Linked DNA regions of Homo sapiens: all the other regions are reported to be linked to region 3. Evidence: microRNA targets listed by miRTarBase, many of them from high-throughput screens and not tested one by one. Region 3 holds a microRNA gene; each other region holds the end of a gene's coding sequence.
What was found. Region 3 holds the annotated microRNA hsa-miR-4703-3p (UGUAGUUGUAUUGUAUUGCCAC, at 2,766-2,787, shown strand). A microRNA usually pairs through its seed, bases 2 to 8, with sites in the 3' UTR of a target mRNA and lowers its output. Matches are read on the target gene's strand: a 7mer-m8 pairs with bases 2 to 8, a 7mer-A1 pairs with bases 2 to 7 and ends in A, and an 8mer does both.

Region 1: miRTarBase lists RBMS3 as a target of hsa-miR-4703-3p. Seed matches in the 3' UTR shown: 7mer-A1 at 711-717.
Region 2: miRTarBase lists SCP2 as a target of hsa-miR-4703-3p. Seed matches in the 3' UTR shown: 7mer-A1 at 803-809.

Annotation. Positions count from the first base shown.
Region 1 is chr3:30,003,411-30,007,770 of GRCh38, forward strand. RBMS3 (RNA binding motif single stranded interacting protein 3) reads left to right here. Exons shown (of 15, transcript NM_001003793.3): 15 at 446-4,360. The coding sequence ends at 452. Among named protein-coding and RNA genes, the nearest start is that of RBMS3-AS1, 71 kb to the left of the region's middle.
Region 2 is chr1:53,049,987-53,053,986 of GRCh38, forward strand. It overlaps SCP2 (sterol carrier protein 2), which reads left to right. Exons shown (of 16, transcript NM_002979.5): 16 at 623-1,712. The coding sequence ends at 718. Among named protein-coding and RNA genes, the nearest start is that of PODN, 10 kb to the right of the region's middle.
Region 3 is chr13:51,549,872-51,554,231 of GRCh38, forward strand. It overlaps MIR4703 (microRNA 4703), which reads left to right and starts at 2,718; the gene lies at 2,718-2,796. LOC124903175 (a long non-coding RNA gene) reads left to right here. Exons shown (of 4, transcript XR_007063804.1): 2 at 1-35; 3 at 1,254-1,317; 4 at 2,212-2,280.

The DNA of each region.
Region 1 (4,360 bases), not on the chromosome of region 3:
ACTGCATTGGCCTCTTAACTGTCTCACTTATTTCCTCAGGCAATAAGCCTTATGTAAATGTACGTGATGAATACCATGAGATAACATACAACCCAGTTATTTTGGGTGCATAGTAAAGAATCTCATATTTGTTGCTGGAATTAGTGATGATTCCTATAGTAGTTTTGAAGGAACAGAATTACTCAAAGGATCTGTAAGGAGCTATAACATAAGCTATTACCCTTGATTTTTAATGTAAACAAACTCTCTGGCCCAAATCTGTATTTAAATGAAAGTGGCAGAATTTGACAATCTCATAGACTCAGTATGATTTTATGATGCTTTTGTGACTATGTTACATTGAAAGCTTGGTATCTTTTAAAGCTGCCTCATTGGAAAAGGGCACAGAAGGTGATTTCAAAGTTACTTTAATTTAATGACCACTCTTATTCAATTGTTTTCACAGACCATAAACAGGACTGAAGAATGTCTGTCTGAATCTTTGCCTTGAATGAAGAAACTTCATTGAACAAGAAGTTGGCTTCCAGTTTGCACAGACGTCAATGGAATGCATTTTTTTGTTGTTGTTGTTGTTTTTTTTTTAGTGTTATACCTTACCCAATGAAAGCAAAGTTTTTATGTGCTGTGCAAATGGTCTTCATGTGGTCTGACAATTTATTTTTGCCATCATTTTTTTAATTAAAGAAAAAATTTCCAGAAGAGGAAAAAAAAACTACAAAAAACAAAACATTGAAGGTTGATATTTTATGTGGAAGAACATTTGAATTGAATTCAGAATTTTTCTGAAGGTGTAGATACTTTTTTTTTTTTTTTAACAGAAAACCTGATGTCAAGAGGTGGGCAATAGAAATGGAAACAAATTGTCTTCCTCAATAATTAAGCTACTTTCTCTTTTTCCCTTCTTGTTTTAATCTAGTGGGTTTTTTATTTTATTTTTTCTTAGAAATATGTAGGTAAGGTTTATCTTGAATCTTAATTGCCTTAATTTTAAGGACGTCAAAGGCTCTCGAGGCAAGCTGTCAACGTCTTGTTGAAAACAAAAATCAAGAAAGAATTGAAATACTGTGCCGGCTTTCACTGGCACAGAAGTTTAAGACTATGAGTTTTTAGGGTGAAGAAAAAACTGTACAGTTTAAATGAAAATGTTTTTCTTCATTTGAAGAAAATTTGTTGATAAACCATGGCAACTGCAAGAATTGGAAAAATGCTGGGACTTTTCATGAACTTTGTCTTAAGTGTTGACATGAATCATTCTAAAAGGCTAAAACATTTTACAGTAAAGTTATTAAGGTTGGTTTAAAAACAACTGCATTAGAAATAATGCGTGTTTGGGGGGCAGAATGCAGATTTTTTTAATTTACAAAGCGTGATCGCTAGCAAAAGCATTAGTGCTTTTTATCTGCAGTCTTTTTTATGAGCTTTACAAAGTTTTTAGTCAGCTTTGCTTGTCACATTGCAAAACCTAGCTTAAGAGCATTAAAAAAAAAAACTTAAGTAGATAGGAGCTTATGGTCAAAAAGTGCAAAAAAAAAAACAAAAAAAAAGCAATAGATAGAGAAATTGTTGACAATTTCTGTAGTCTTTCCTAGTTGTGATCAAATTCAGCCTATGGATGGCCTATTTTATACCAAAGATGAAGTGACACCCTATTACAGTCCAGAAGATAGAGGTTGTTTTCGTTTCTTTTCTTTTTAAAAAAAAAAAAATTTATTTGACCGACATGGCCGGACCAGTTCTTTCTTTGTTGTTTGTTTAAACTACCTTCCACTGGTGTTTTACATAGTGCAAAAAAAAAAAGAGGGTGGGGGGAGTTGTCTCTCTTTTCTTTAAATGTGTATTCATTGATAGCAGAAGCTTGTACCTGCTGTGTTTAGCAGTTTCAGCATGAAGAGTTCTGGATATGAACTGATTCATAGAGCCAAGTGGCTTTAAATTCTGTGAGCTTTTCTGGTTTCTCACTAGCTGTCTTGAATAGTGAAACCTGTATTGATGGCCACTAGTAAACCAAGATGCTTATTTAACAGGTGGAATATTCTTTATATGAAATTTCAGCTAAAGACACTTTCTGGACCTGGTCTGAAAGGTCATTTGTCAAAAAAGCTTAGGGATATTCTGTGAAATGGTGAGTGGTCTCCTGGAAAGGTCTCATTGTATTTGAACAATAGTCTTCCCTCTAAATTACAACACCTCTGGGTTTTGTCTTTACACCTCTGTCTTTGTCATCACCTACCATGAATAGTCACCTTGGTTTTGCAAATGGGGAGGGGGTATCATCTTTTTGCCTGTTTTCACTGTATTTTTGTATATTGGTGTTGCCGAAAGAACTTTTTCTTTCAGTTTAATTCTTTGAGGCATGTAGGACCAATAAGATTGAGAATTCTATTGGTGGAATTTAGGGAAGTCCTTAAAATGCTAGTTGACAATCAAGGAACAGTATGATTTATATCAATAAGAACCAAAAGAATTAGGTTTGATCAATCATTTAAGCCAAGGAGGAATACTTGCATTTAGAACAATGCAAAACTTTGTCTAAAATGAATTAAATTGACCCACCTGTAAAATATATCTACATTTTTAATTCATGAGATGATATGTGTTCAACCTTTACAGTTTTACCTGAAATTAAGGACAATGGAATAGAATTTGTTAAGTGAACCATTCACTAGATTGCTTTCTGAATGAATCCTTTGAATCAAATAGGTGAAACTCTTTTCAAAAACTAAGTCAGTCACAGGAGCCTGTCTTAGTCCAAAAGAAGCAGGGAAATGTATTTAAGTGTACTATAAAACAGGGTAGGCTTTTTAAAAACTAAAAAGTTTTAAAGGTAAATCATATTCCCATTAGGTCAACATGAGTAATAAGGTTGACTCATGTGAAATTGTCAATATTCTACTATTTCTGTAAACTCTGGTTCTCTTATTTGCAACCCCATGCACTGGAAGCCCAAATCAGAGAATGACTCCATATATTTATGGTCACATTGGAGACAAAAGTGTATCCAAGAAAATGTAGTGTGCGTTATAGAGAAATTCCAACTGGTCACACTCACCATTATGGTTTTTCATGCTTTAGAGAAAATGCTAGATTTATACTGTCTTTTGTTCCATCCTTCAGCTTCCCATGCATTATAAAGGTGGCACTTAAGTTTTTATCTTTGAAAAGTGGGCCCCAAAGTTTTTTGGGGTACAAAAAGACATGTATGAGAACCATATTTTCTGTTTCTCTTTTTCACTCTCTAAACTCTTTTTGTATAAATAAGGATTATCCTGGGCATAATTCATTTGAATATGAAACCAACATACTTTCTTTCATTTTTGTGAAAAAATAACCAAAAACATGTATTAATGTGATACAAAGAAAGTCTCATTCACACAATCAACAATGAGGCTAAGAGGTAGCTACCATGTGGCTAATGAATGTGCCTAGGTAACTTCCTGTTTCTATTCAAAACTGCTGCTTTATTTGTACATTCAGAAATATTTTTTTCAACTATGAAATTTCAATATCAATTTTTTAAGCCAGTTTCTGCAAAAGGAAATGACCTGTCATTTGATGTGTTCATGTGTGTTTTGTGTTTGGATAGTTTATATCATGCCATTCTATAAAATGTATGTTTTCAAACCAAAAAGAAAAAAAATAGAAGGAAAACAACGGCACATACTCAAATTTGCCCTGCTTTGTCTGTTGTCTTACCTAAGACTTGTTTTGAAGAGCCAAGTCTGGGAGAGAAAAAAAAGCATCAACAGGTAAGCAGCATTACATTGTGTGGTAATAAACCAAAATAAGTTTTCAATATATACAGACAACAGAATTCAAATTTAATCAACAAAATATATTGTAGTGATTTGTTTGTTTGTTTGTTTGAGACGGAGTCTCGCTCTGTCGCCCATCCTAACTAGGACTATAATCTTTTTTTTTTTCTTTAAGTTGAAGTTAATTTTCTGTGCATTCTGGTCCACCAGATTTTCAAGCATTTATTTGGATGTTTCCATTTTTCCTTTTGACTTTAATAGCCAAGACTTAGCTTAAACATCAGGAAACAAACTAAAGCCACAATCCAAATGAGAGAAACACTGTCTCGTCTAAACTCTAGTTTCATGGTCAGTGCAACAGTGAGTTTTCTTTTAATAATGGTATGGTATTGTCAAGGGAGGCAAAGTGTTCATGGTAACTTGGAGCTCCCCAATACATGGCCATGTCTTCTAAAGACAACGTAATGAGCCCAAGTGAACTGAAGGTCATACTGGCAGGTGCTGATGACAGTTTGTCCTTGAATGCTGACATGTCTTGAATATTGCAAATGTCATAATACTCTTTTAAAACAGTCCTCTACCTGACTCTAGTTTTGCGAGGATTAGTT
Region 2 (4,000 bases), not on the chromosome of region 3:
AAGTTTTCCTGGGATTTTGTTACATGGTAAATTTAGCAAACATCATGTGATCTAATCCCAGGCAGTTGTTAAATGGAACAAATTGTGGCTCTGCACTTCAGATTGGTTTGATTTTTCTTGTTGAGCCAAAGAGTAACACAAGCACCTCATTCTCAGCAGGCTCTGTGCCCTCTGTAGGGATAAGTCCTTTATCATTGGTGGCATTTCATTCACATGCATGTTGGATTGAATCCCAAGAGTTTCTGTGTTTTTTGTGTATGCTTTTTCTCTCAGCAGCCTGCTAAAAATTTCAGTTCATATTTCCCACCTACATGGAATGTTTTAAAACATAATCAGTGTAGTATGAACCCACTTTGAGGAGGACAGGTGAAAACAGGCTCAATTTCTATGAGAAATTTGGGAAAGCTGCTCCTTTCTGCTGATCTGCAAAAAGTGTGGCCTTTACAAATTCTTCCTTTTGAAGAATGTGGTTCCAAATCTATTCCAGAAAGCCAAGTTTCATATTTTAGAGAAAGTCATGTGACCTGGATAAATAAATGATCTCAGGGCTAGATAGTGTAGAAACATCAGCAATCTTAAAACAAAAAAACACCAAGTAATGAATTTTCTTTCTTCTTCACAGGCCTTCTTTCAAGGCAAATTGAAAATCACTGGCAACATGGGTCTCGCTATGAAGTTACAAAATCTTCAGCTTCAGCCAGGCAACGCTAAGCTCTGAAGAACTCCCTTTGGCTACTTTTGAAAATCAAGATGAGATATATAGATATATATCCATACATTTTATTGTCAGAATTTAGACTGAAACTACACATTGGCAAATAGCGTGGGATAGATTTGTTTCTTAATGGGTGTGACCAATCCTGTTTTTCCTATGCTCTGGGTGAATAGAGCCTGATGGTATACTACTGCTTTGCGGAATTGCATACAACTGTGCATTACAAAGTTAATATGGTAATTATGGTCTGGGGTAAAATTGAGTTTCAGAATAAAATTAGGAACAGTAAAATCCAAAGAACTATGTAAACAAAAAAGCTTTTGTTTTGCTTACAAAGTATATTTAAGGATTATTCTGCTGAAGATTCAGTTTAAGAGTTTTCCTTGGGAGAACTAAGTAAGAAACACAATGCCAACAGCTGGCCAGTAATTAGTGTTGTGCACTTCATGTCATTAATCAATTTCTCAATAGTTCTTAAAATTAGTGAGATTAAAAATCTAAAAATTTTGCATTTCATGCTATCAGAAACAGTATTTTCTTCCCAAATCAAAATAAAAGAAATATGATCAGAGCTTGAACACAGGCTTATTTTTAAAATAAAAATATTTTTAACATGGGTTTCCTTATTGAAAAATCAGTGTATTAGTCATAAAACACCATCATTAAGAATAATTGAACAATAAAGTTTGCTTTCAGATGCAGTTTTCAAATTATAATCTCATTTCAATTTATAACGTTCTCAGTCCTTTGTTATAATTTTCCTTTTTCATGTAAGTTTAATTATCTGCATTTATCTTTTTTCCTAGTTTTTCTAATACTAATGTTATTTCTTAAAATTCAGTGAGATATAGGATAAAATAATGCTTTGAGAAGAATGTTTAATAGAAAATTAAAATAACTTTTTCTGGCCTCTCTTGTTTTTACTGTGTATGTTCTTGCTCAGGGCTCTCTAGATAATGCAGAATAAAGAGAAACGTTGGGGGATTTATAAACTGAATGTTATCTGGACATAATCACTAGTTTTTGATTGGGGAGGCAGTGTGGTATAATAGAAAGAGCACTTGACTGGGAGCCAAGAGACTTGCTTCTCTTAGGCAGATAACTGCCTGCCTGGACCTGTTTGCTAAACTATTAGGAGATTTAAGTAGATGATCCCAAAGGTCCCTTCTGCTCAGAATCCTGTGAGTTTCCTCAGAGCACAGTAGAATGGTTTGGGAATTACCCAGGCCCCACCTTTCTGTTGTTTACTCATTACTTCACCCATAGGTGGTCAGAGGTAGACAACCAGCTGGTATCATTTGTTTAGGTGTTTGGAGCCCTTGCTGATATAGTCAGGACTATGGATCAGATCTCCTAAGACCATTTAGCTTTGCATGTTTTGTGACCAGCAGAACAGCATTTGGTGATAGGGCAAGAGGATACATTAAGCCAATAGAAGTTGATCCCAAGTTCCATAAAATGAATTCAGAACACAGACCTACTTCCTAATCATAGTAGCTTCTTACTCTGAGAAGAAAAAGACTTCAAGAAAAGAGTTTCAACAAAATGTCTGATTTCTCTGTAGTTTGGATTTGCTGCATCATTCTTTCCTCACTTGTCCCAGATAACAAGAGATACCTGAAATAGGCTTTAGGATGAACCTCAAAAACTAAAAGGAAAAACAAAAACTGGTTCTTACAGTAGGATTATATTCATATATGATGTAATTTGTGTGCATGATAGAAAAGTACTTAGTGATAAAATAGTTTGATTTTTTTCCCCCTTCTGGTATTATAGTTTGGAGGAAGGAGATTAAGTTTTAATTTGAGTTAAAACTGCCATTACTAGTTGTGCTAGTTGAAGAGATCAAGTCTTAGTTGCCCGATTGATAAAGTGGAGATACTAATATCGGCTTCCTAGGATTATGAGAAGCTGGAGAGATAACATGTAAAGTACCTATAGCAGTTGCTAGTTTAGGGTAGTCATTCAGTAAATGTGAGTTCCCTTGCTCTTCTCACCATTAGCAGCACCACTTGCTCCTGTGATATATGATAATGATGTTTGTAGTGTTATGTCCCACTTTTGGAGTCTTTCGTTTGTTCATTTAACGAGTATTTATTGAGTGCCTACCATGTACAGAGCACTATATAGAAGGCATAATCTCACTGGAGATACTAGTCAGCTCTTTTTCTCAAGGTGCTTACATTCTAATGGGTGAGACAGTCAGTCAAAGAGACAATTATTATTGACTATGAAGTGCCCAGCAGGAAATGGTTAGGGTGCTCTGATAAGCAGTCATAGCGAGGGACCTTGATAAAGTAGTTAAAAGAGATGTCTTTGAGGAAGTAATTTTTAAGCTGAGATCTGAAGGTTAAGAAGGAGCAAACCATGCAAAGAACATTGCATGAAAGGGTGGAAACAGGCTTGATTTGTTCCAAAAATTGCAAGGGGGCCAGTGTGAGTGGAATAGTGAGCAGGAAGGATAGGCCCGAGATAAGATCGGATAGATACACAGAAGCTAGTTTTATTGGGATTTGTTCATTACGGTAAGGCTTTTTTTGTATTTCATTCTTAGTAAAGTCAGGAGCTGTTGACAATATAGCTTTACAGATGTTTATTTCTTACTTAGGCTACATATTCATCTTGCCATCATATCCTAGGTCTGGAACCCAGACTAACGGAGTAGCCACTACCTGGAACATCATGACCATCATGGCAGATGAAGAGAAAAAGGTGAAGTGCATGTTGGCTCTTAAAGCTTCTGCCTGAAGTGATACATACCACTTTTGCTCCCATCTCCTTGACCAAAGAAGGTCACATGCCCCACCTAACTTCAGAAACCTAACATGTACCAGAAGGAGAAAGCAGAGTGGGAATATTCGTGAAGAGAACTGATGACCACCAGAAGGGCTGCAAACGGGAATGAAATAATTTAAACTACCGCTGTAGCTGGTGTGTGGAGAATGTACTGGTGGCAGAGGGCTGGAGAATGGCTGTCTGGGTGCAAGAAAATGGCGTCCTGGACTAGGGTGTCAGTAGTAAGAGATAGATGTGGAAAAACAGGCAGAGGTAGAGCTGACAGAACTTGGTAACTGAATGTCAGGGGCAGGGCGGAGCGGGGTGGGGGAGCGGGTGGCAAGAATGACTTCTAGTGACGGGCCAGCCGAATGGTGGATCGTGACTGGACTGGCAGTGACACAAGCAGGTTTCAGGGGCAGTAGTTAAAATAAGTTCTGCTTTTGAAATTTTAACTTGGAGATGCCTGAGAGGTTTGCAAATAGAGATTAAGGAGAGGGTTGGATTTGA
Region 3 (4,360 bases):
TACCACATTGGACATCACAGCAAACACTACAACCAGTAAGTCTCTGCTTGTATTAACTGGAACATTTCCAAAGCCTGTCCTACTCAGGATAAATGCACAAAAGAAAAATTAGTAGTTGACGGCAGAATTCTTAAGAGAGCAGTTTTGCATTTTTTACCAAGTAATACTTATTTAACTTCTAGGGCAGTAAAGTAAGAGAAATTGTTACTCTCCACCTCCTGCCATCATGAATTTAGGAAATGTAGAAAGTTATTCTGTTAATAAAGATGTGAACTTGCTGTTGAAGAGAAAATGTTTCTGTTATATCTGTTTCCCTGTGTTTTTGCCACTGCAAGATTCTATCCTGTAATTTATAAAGCACAGAAGTTTATTTTTCACAATTCCAGAGGCTGAGAAGTCCAAAATCAAGGCTCTGGTGGGTTTGGTGTCTGGTAATGCAGAAGTTGCTGCATCTTCTGAAGGGAAGGACAAGAGGGCCAAAGGCTAAGTGAAGCCTCTTTTATGAGTTCCTTAATTCCATTCTTGAGGGAGGAGACTATAGACTAATCATCTTTTAAAGGCACCAACTCTTAATGCCATCACGAGCCATTATGTTTCAACACCCAAATTTTGGAGGGGACACACTCAAACTATAGCAGTCCTTTTGCATTTTGTTCAGGATATCAAAAAGGCCACTTACATTTTATAGTAAATAGTGAAAAAGCTTGCATTCAAGCTTTATCTTGAAAAATGCAATACAAACTGTGAAATCATATTTATTATACTTCATATGTAACAAAATGTAAGCTATAATGACATCTACATACTTCCTGTTAGAACTAAGAATAAATGGATTGGAATTTGGGGATGTAATTTTTCCAATGAAATTTTAAAATAGCCCAAATGACATTCTCCACTTTATATTTTATTTGTACAGCATGATAGTGAAGATGGACATTTTGACAAAAACGTTCAAGGATTTTATGAACTTTTCCCAGGGCCTCTCAATCCTTTAATTTTGAACTCATTATTTTTGGAAACATCTCTGCTGTCATTATCCTCCTTGATGTTTCTCTAGTTGTAGATATGTTCACTTCGACACCTAACAGGCATGCCAGTATTAAAAATGTGTCCAAAACAGAACCCTCGATTCTGTTTTCCTTGCATTTTCTTCCCACCTTCACTCTATCTTCTCTTCTCCTCCAGTTGCTCAAGACAAATATCTAGGAATTATTCTTTATTTCTTTTTTTCTCTCATACACTATATCCACCAGCAAGTCCAGTTGGCTCCACAAGCTTGAGCTCACCATTTCTCACCAGCTCCACCGCTACCTCCAAGTAAGTGCCAACCACCTTCAGCCATTGCCTGAACTACTTTAGTGGCTTCCTAAATCGGCTCCAGCTTCTACTCTATTTCCCTACAATCCACTCTCCATAGAGCTGCCAGAGTGATTTTTAAATGGATTTGTTTGTATTAAGTACTACATTGACAAGGTTCAAAATTTAACACACTATAAAAAGAGATGTTCAGAGAAGTCTTGCGTTCACTCCTGCACTTCTCACCCCAACCCTCCGATGATATCCCTTCCACCCATATATTTTTAAAATCCTCCTAGGGTTTTTAAGGCAAATACAAGCATATTCAAATATATTTTCTCCCACCTTACTGCACAAAAGATAGCCTACCATATACACTGTTCTACATCTTGCTTTCTTTCCCTTGCCATATGTCCTAAAGCTCTTTCCATATGTATCACTACATAGAGAGCTTCCTTATTTGTTTTGACAGCTGCATGTCATACCATTGTTTATTTAACCAGGCCCCTTTTGTTGAATATGGGAGTCAGATCCATTTTTTGCTCTTACAAATAATACAACAATAAATAACCTGATACATGTGTTGTTTCTACAAGTGGATATGCCTCTATGACATAGAATCACAGAAATACGATTGCTAGATTATATATTTTAGTGTATTTGCCAATTTCAAAATGAAAATTTTAGAGGTGAATCTGATGACAGTTCTCCTGCTTAAAAGACAATCAGGATGAAAACCATTAATGAAACCCATAAGGCCCTCCCTAATTTGGCCCTTGTCTAACTCTTCAATACTGAAACTATGCCCAAAAGAGTTAAAGAAACCAATGACTAACAAATTCTTGAGTTTGCAGAATGACAGATTAAAAAAAAAAAAACACCTACTGAAAGGCTGAAATGCCCTCTGCTTATCAGATAAAAGAAATGGCTGAAATCCTTTGGAACCAATATGACCAACTGGAGTCGGTGCAGAAGGAGCTTGCTGACAACGCAGCCTGAATTTCCACCCTATGTTTCATACCAACTCCCCCTGAATTTGCACATGTGATACATGAGATAGCATGAAGAGATAACTGAGCATGCCCAAGGACTTTCCAGACTTCTGCTTTCCTTCCACCAATCACCTGCTAATCTCAGAATCCACCCCCTGAAACTTTTCTAATAAAAATACTGTTTTGAAGGCAGCACAGGGAGACAGATTTGAGCTTGACTTCTGTCTCCTTGGGATTGACTTTCAGTACAAAGCTTTTCTTTTCTCAAGAACATGGTGTCATAGTATGGGCTTCTAGTGCATTGGACAGTGAGCCCCTTTTACTCGATAACAATATCAGCTATATTTTTCTCCCTCTTTCACTGTGGACTAAGCATTCAGCTTCCTCTTATTAATCCCATAAAATCCTATACCATTTGCGAGATTTGCTTTATGCATATTAGCAATACAGTACAAATATAGTGTGTTTGATTTGCACTGTAGTTGTATTGTATTGCCACTCTGTATAAAAATCCAATCATCAGCTAGATACCTACCTAACAAAAAAGTTGCTCCTAGAAGGAAGGAAGCAAAGCTAATGTTTAGTGGATATGACTGAGTGGCTTTTATAAGCAGTCATTTGATAAATAAACGTTTCTAGGTTATGATGACTTTTAGTCTCCTATACTGCTTCAGACTTCAGGGACTCAGATAATGAATGCTGAGATAATGTGGATGTTTTATCATTCTGTAGCATGGTGATCAGGGATTCCAGAAACATAAAGGTAAAGTTCTAACCTTATAAAGAAACGACATGGTCAGTGAAAGAGCACTGGGCTGGAAATTACAAGTCCCAGGTCCCAATGCAGAATCTGCCACTAAGTAAGCTGTGAGGGCTTAGGCAAGCCATTTCACTTTTCTCTGGCTCATTTTATTTGCATGAAAAGAAAGAAAAAGGAATTCATTGTGATTCTGAACCTTTTCACTCCCCAAGGATCCCCTTTATTCCTCCCCCCATTTTCATATGTTGAGAAATTGTGTCTACTAAAATATATTCATTAGTAGTTTGTTCATGTTCTCATGTTCATTGTTTATTATTAATATAGTCATGTTCATTGTTAATTTATCAAAAATATATATATATAATTTCCAATTCAGCTTAGCATTACAAAATTGATTGACATTGATTGAGTTGATGTAATACCCTCCAAAGCAAAGAAACCAGATTAATTTGTCTGGGTGGTTAATCTTAATTCCTAAGAGTTAAGAGGCTGCAGGTTGGGACTGTCTGCATCCAGTTGACTATAAGTTTTTTGTTTTGTTTTGTTTTTACAAGTCTGAGAGTCAATGCTATTTATATTTGTATTTCTATTCAGTCCAGTGCTTGGACAAATGGTACCTCAGAGGGTCCTGTGGGTTCAGCAAAGCAGCTCAGGAGCAGAAATGGGGGTGGGAAAAGAGGAGTCTTAGGGCCCCAAAACCTATTTCATCTACAGCAGCCTCACTTTTTTCTGCTTTAAATGCTAGATTCTGCTTAAGATTTTCTTTTTCTTTTCCTTTTTTTTTGAGACAGAGTCTTGCTCAATTGCCTAGGCTGGAGTGCAGTGATGCTATCTTGGCTCACTACAACTTCCCCTTCTTGGGTTCAAGTGATTCTCCTGCCTCAGTCTCCCGATTAGCTGGGATTACAGATGTGTGCCACCACCCCCAGCTGATTTTTGTATTTTTAATAGAGACAGGTTTTCACAATGTTAGCCAGGCTGATCTCGAACTCCTGGCCTCAAGTGATGTGCCTGCCTCAGCCTCCCAGAGTGCTGGGATTACAGGCGTGAGCCACCACACCTGGCCTTAAGATTTGCTTTGAAGAAAGCGTTTAAACCATAAAAATAATTTGAAAAATATGACTTAATCAAACTCAATTATATAGATGAGAATAATGAGGCATAGAAAAATTAAATGAAACTGGCCCAAGGTTATAGAGCTAATTAATGGCAAAATACTCATTCAGTCAATCAACAAATATTTATTGAACACTGTAGAAATAAAAATTGTAAAGCTAAAGCTTTGATTTGTTCTTAGTTTAAAAACAATCTG